Regions from separate parts of the Homo sapiens genome. Here region 1 is linked to region 2. Evidence: fine-mapped expression QTL. A gene starts in region 2. The other region holds a variant in brackets. All regions are shown on one strand. Distances are from middle to middle.

What was found. PIP is the estimated chance that this variant, and not a neighbour inherited with it, causes the effect.
Region 1: its variant is fine-mapped to the expression of GINM1 in blood mononuclear cells (TOPMed, PIP 0.98).

The regions. Positions count from the first base shown.
Region 1 is chr6:149,593,038-149,596,063 of GRCh38, reverse strand. It overlaps KATNA1 (katanin catalytic subunit A1), which reads left to right. Exons shown (of 11, transcript NM_007044.4): 11 at 830-1,191. The coding sequence ends at 1,028. It overlaps LOC124901526 (small nucleolar RNA SNORA2/SNORA34 family), which reads right to left and starts at 1,439; the gene lies at 1,305-1,439. It also overlaps the pseudogene RPS18P9. The variant A/G (reference allele first, on the strand shown) is at 1,546.
Region 2 is chr6:149,564,625-149,567,361 of GRCh38, reverse strand. It overlaps GINM1 (glycosylated integral membrane protein 1), which reads right to left and starts at 987. Exons shown (of 8, transcript NM_138785.5): 1 at 828-987. The coding sequence starts at 947. RefSeq lists enhancers at 391-440, 1,691-1,820 and a silencer at 711-1,260.

The sequences.
Region 1 (3,026 bases), 29 kb before region 2:
TTGTTGGTGCCTTTGTTCACTATATTATAAAATACGAAATGACTGTGAAATATATTGACTTGGCATATGCACAGAATACAGTCTCATTCTCAGTGAACTTATCCTAAATGTGACAGAATAGCAGTAAAAAGAAAAAAAGAATGTCTTTAATCCAGCTGGTTCAAGTAGGTTTTGTCCTAATCTAAGTATTAGTAGAGACACTTAATTAACCAGGGGCTTGACTGCGCTCGTTTCCTCCTTTCTAAAGTGAGCATACCACACAGGGTTCTGAGGATTAAAGCTAAAGTGTATACATCAAACAGCTCTATTGCTATCCCTTTGCATAAATGGTGGCTGCTATTAAGGATAAAACTTGGTAAAAGGCAAGAGCTGTTTGAATCTGAAGTTTTGTTTTTTTTTTTTAACACAAATGAGAAAAGGAGAAACCCTGAACTTACCTAGCTTTTCCTCTACATGGAGAAAATATTTAATTTTCTTGTTAACAGTTTCTCTTCTCTTCTGACTCTGTGATGCTTATTCTTCATTTTATTGAATAGTTATAATGAAATTCAAATTGCTAGCTTTAACCCCACTTTTACTTTTTCTGGGATTTTATATTCAGTATTAATTATTTAAATTAGCATCCTTTTTCATTACAGAAGATTTAACTGCTTAAAAATCAATCACAACAGGCTTTGTATTCCAATAAGTTTCTATACAATACTACATATATATGTAATATAATTAGAGAATGCTACAACAGATCAATTGAAAATTTTTCTATTAACAGGTTTTCATTTAACCAAAGTAACATTGTGTGTGTTGTTGTTGTTTTTAACTTAAAACCTAGGGATGCGTCCTTGATGGCAATGAGAAGGCGCATTGAAGGTTTGACTCCAGAGGAAATCCGAAATCTTTCCAAAGAAGAAATGCACATGCCTACAACTATGGAGGATTTCGAGATGGCTTTAAAAAAGGTTTCTAAGTCAGTGTCTGCTGCAGACATTGAAAGATACGAGAAATGGATATTTGAGTTTGGATCATGCTAAATTCTCACATGTAAACTGTGAGAAATGTGCCTTAAGTGTTTGAATATTAAATGCAGTAATTCATTGTACTGAGTGCTATATTTTTTTTAACTTTCATAATGGTAAGATTTTTTTAAAAAAACCCTTATGATTCTGAATAAAGGCAATATTTTTAAGCTGAAAATTTGTTTTACTTTAGCATTACTAGATTTCTATTATTATTTCACTGACCACAAATGTTACTTAGCTTGGAAAGCTGTCTTTTTTTTCTTTGCTTTTTCTATTTTTTTCAAGACTGTTTGTTTCTTCTAGCTGAACTGGCCATTCATACTGGGATTAGCCAACAGACCATAAGAAAGACATCAATCTTGGCTCTTGTTTGAAACCAATAGCTACAATGGCAAACCATCACGTTTCTTGATTCAGGGCCTAGGAAAGCTGACTTTATATGCACTTTTTTTTTTTTTTTTTTTTGGTATATAAACTATTTATTAACAGACAAGGCCTACAGACTTACTTCTTCTTAGACACACCCACG[A/G]TGCGGCCACGGCAGCCTGTGGTCTTGGTGTGCTGGCCTCGGACACGAAGGCCCCAGAAGTGACGCAGCCCTCTACGGGCCCGAATCTTTTTCAGTCGCTCCAGGTCTTCACAGAGCTTGTTGTCCAGACCATTGGCTAGGACCTGGCTATATTTTCCATCCTTTACATCCTTCTGTCTGTTCAAGAACCAGGCTGGCATCTTGTACTAGTGTGGATTCTGCATAATGGTGATCACATGTTCCACCTCATCCTCAGTGAGTTCTCCCGCCCTCTTGGTGAGGTCAGTGTCTGCTTTCCTCAACACCACATGAGCATATCTTCGGCCCACACCCTTAACGGCAGTGATGGCAAAGGCCATTTTCCGCCACCCATCAATGTTGGTGTTGACTACTCGGCAAAATATGCTGGGACTTTTCAGGGATCACTAGAGACATGGCGGCAGCACAAGTGGCGGCATGTAGGCCTCCTGTGGAAGAGAGCTATATGCACTTCTAACTTGGCATCTTCTCTCCTACTGTTTGCTGCTGTTACTCCTTCTAGGAAGAAAAAAATATTGGCTCTAGCTCCAGTTAACCTTACCCATTGCCTCTGGGTGCCAGCGGATAACTGAAAATCCCTGAACATTTTTACACAGTAGCTAATTAAAGCATGAGCCAAGCCCAGTATGTCTTCCTTCCCACCTGGTGTTATGGTAGCTTCCCTTCACCTCCTGGGAGAGTTTTAAAGACACATTTTACTTTGCATTTTAAAAAAATAAAATAAAATTCTTACTTGACTTTTATTTTGCCTATGTAAGAGGCTGCACTATAGGCAAATAGGCATTTCTAAACCTGTGCTGCTCATAGTACTCTAATCACTCATTAACTCATGCATACCAAACATAGCTAAAGTAAAGTATTAATGGTATGAGTTAATAAGTGAAATAAAAGTTAATGGTATAAAATTTTAGATAAGATTTCCATGTGTGACTACTTAGAAGAAAATAACTTACCATGTTATCCCAACCATAGAAAACAGAGCCTCAGGAGATTGCGGACCTTGCTGTGGTCCCAAGTCTTACTGAGAAAGACAGAAGCCTGGGTAGGGATCTTCTGACTGCAGAGCCTACACTCTCCAATAGACCATGTAGCCTCCTAAAGTTTTTTCTTCACTAGAATCTGTAAGCTTATGGTTAATAGATAAAATAAGACCATGTCATCATTTGGAGTTAGAACTGGTGCTTTCTAATGACTTAGGGAATGAGAAAGGGTGTAAAGAACAAGTGTTACTGGTTGGTAACTCAAGGATCAAATTGTAAGTTGCAGATTATTTTTTTCAGCAGTATGGAGAGAGTATTGCATAATAGAGCTCCATGCAATGTAATTAATTTAAAGTCTGGCAAAGTGAAACATCACTCCTTCATTCTACTTGTCATCCTCTCCACCCCCATCACACACATACCTATTTGGCCTAAATATAAAGTGGTCTCAAAAAAACCAAC
Region 2 (2,737 bases):
TTGTCATTCTCAGAACACTTGCTCTTTAAAATATTCAAACTTTTCCCTACCATTCTACTGAAAAAAGGCTGATACTGGCCTAGGTAGGCACGACTCTACGGCAGGAATGGTGAGCATCAGCCACGTTTTAATGTTAGGATGCCTCGATTCTCCCACCTCAGCTGGCATCAGAAGCACCTGCAGGACTCTCCAACCCGGACTGCTGGGCCCCGCCCCCAGAGGCCGGGCTGAGTCCCCAGGGGATGCGGACACCGCCGATCGCGCCCCGCCGTGAGAACTTCTCCTCCAACATCCGACAAAAACATTACGTCGCGCGAGGGCCAGGTCTCTCCCTCTGCCCACCTGAGCCCGGCGGAGCCCCGCAGCCTCGGAACGGCGGACCCTCGCGATCGCAGGCCGAGCAGGCACAAGTGGCCTGGAAATGCGCGAAGTGGGCAACTTCCACACTTCCCGAGCACACAAACATTCCTTGCCCAAGCGCTGGCTCTACCCCGGGAAGGCGCCATTACGAAGGCCTGATCACCGGCAACCGCGCGCTTCGACGGCAAAGCCCCGTCAGGTCGCGCGCCGGCTTGGGCCGCCGGAGAGTCGGTGTGGAGTGGCTCGAGGCTCACTCACAGCGACGCAGCCCCAGTGGGTCCCTTTCCTCTTACCTCGGCCTCCCACGCCGCCCCCATTTCCTGGGGTGCTTCTCCCCACACCTCCTTCGGGGGCCCGGACCCCCGCCCCTGCCCGCCGGTGGGATGTGGGAAGCGTCACTGTGGACAGCCCGGGCCTCCCGGAGAGTCGGAGTCGTAAAGCGGCCAGCCAGGCCCGCCCTGCCCTACCTGTGGGGCTCCGGACAGCGGCGGCGGCTCGGGGGCGCCCGTCGTCAGCCAGCCGGAGGCGGGTAGCGCCACGAACAGCAGGAGCCGGAGGGCGAGCGACCCCGGTGGAGCGCCCTCCATCTTGGACAACCCGGGCAGAGGGCAGCCGCGGCCGGGAGGTGAGGGCGGAGCCGGCCCGCGGGCGGGACGGAGCTTCGGCGGGAGGGACGGGGAGGGGCGGGGAGAGACGGGGAGGGGCGGGACGGGCCCTCCCCTCCCCGGGCGGCCGCGGAGAGGCGCGGGGACGCTCCGAGATCCGGCTCGCCAGGGAAAGGCGTTTGCGCACGCGCAGCGCCGCGCGGCGTCGAGGGGCGGAGTGAAATCTTGGAAGGTACGGCCCCTCATTAGACCCGCCCTCAGGATTGGACAGGACTCCAACTGGAGCGATGTAAATGTCCTCGTAACCATTATTTTTAAAATTAGTATTTACACACATGCATGTGTCTGTGTGTGCACATGTACATGTACCTATACGATGAAAACAACGGTAATATTTCAGAAAACTGTTATACATTAAAAATGAAACATCGCATTTACAGGGGAAGTTTTTATTAAGTGGGTAATTCCCCACCCTTGGCTGCACGTGGGACTCTCCCGGGCAGCTTTAAAAAGTACTGGGGTCTTCCTGAACACCCCACTTTCCAGCCTGGGCTGCGGCTCGGGCCCTGGTGGTTTTTTAATTTTCTCGGGTGATTCATTGTGGGGCCAAGGTTGAGGATGCGCCATGCTTACTGTTCAGCATTCTGCCGACCCCTGGAGGCGGCGCGGGGACAGCGCTCAGCTGGAAGGAAGCCAGCGCACCTGGGCTGTCAGTGCCTTTTTGGTCAGTATCGTAACTCTAAAGTGAAAGTGTTAGACTTTTCTTCCACCTTGCAGATTTAAAAAAAAAAAAAAGTTACGGAACCCTGTAAAGCAGAGTAGCAAGAAATTCAAGCATTTTAGATTAACAGGATTGCATGTTGATTGAGAAAAACTTGGAAACTTGGCCATTCAGGCAGAATAAGAGTAATATTTAGTCTTCCTTTGAAATAAAACTTTTGACATGAAATAAAACTTTTGACATGAAAAAGGAAACAAGAATCTATTTCTCTCTTTGAGCCCCCTTTACTCCTTTGAACACCCTCCTCCCACAGGCCTGCTGACCGCCACCGCCCCCTCCCCCGGCCCCGCCCCAGAATAAATTATAAACGTTTTGGCTAAAGACTCCTTTCAACTAACTCCGGGCTTACTCTGAGATTCCCCACGCCATTGTTAAGCTACAAGTGATTTCACAGCGAAGCCCCACACACTTCTGGGTTCCATCTGCAAACTTGGCCTTTTCCTTTTTTTCCTACTGCTGGAATTAAAAATGAATTTGGAGATGGGCGTGGTCATTTGTGCCTGTACTCCCAGCTATGCAGCAAACGCAGGCAGGAGGATCGCCTGAGTCTATTAAAAAAAAAAAAAAAAAAAGGAATCTAGAAGCCGGGTGCAGTGGCTCACGCCTGTAATCCCAACACTTTAGGAGGCCGAGGCGGGTGGATCACTTGAGGTCAGGAGTTCGAGAATAGCCTGGCCAACATGGTGAAACCCCATCTCTACTAAAAATACAAAAATTATCCAGGCATACTGGCACGCACCTGTAATTCCAGCTACTAGGGAGGCTGAGGCAGGAGAATCGCTTGAACCCAGGAGGCGAAGGTTGCAGTGAGCCAAGATCGCGCCATTGCACTCCAGCCTGCGCGGTGGAGCGAGACTCCGTCTCCAAAAAAAAAAAAAAGAATCTGGAAGTCAGAAAACATGACATGTGGATCTGTATAATTTGAATTAGTAATATAAGGTTACAAAGTACGTCTATATGAAAAGATAATAGGTAAAGTTGAGGCTCTCTG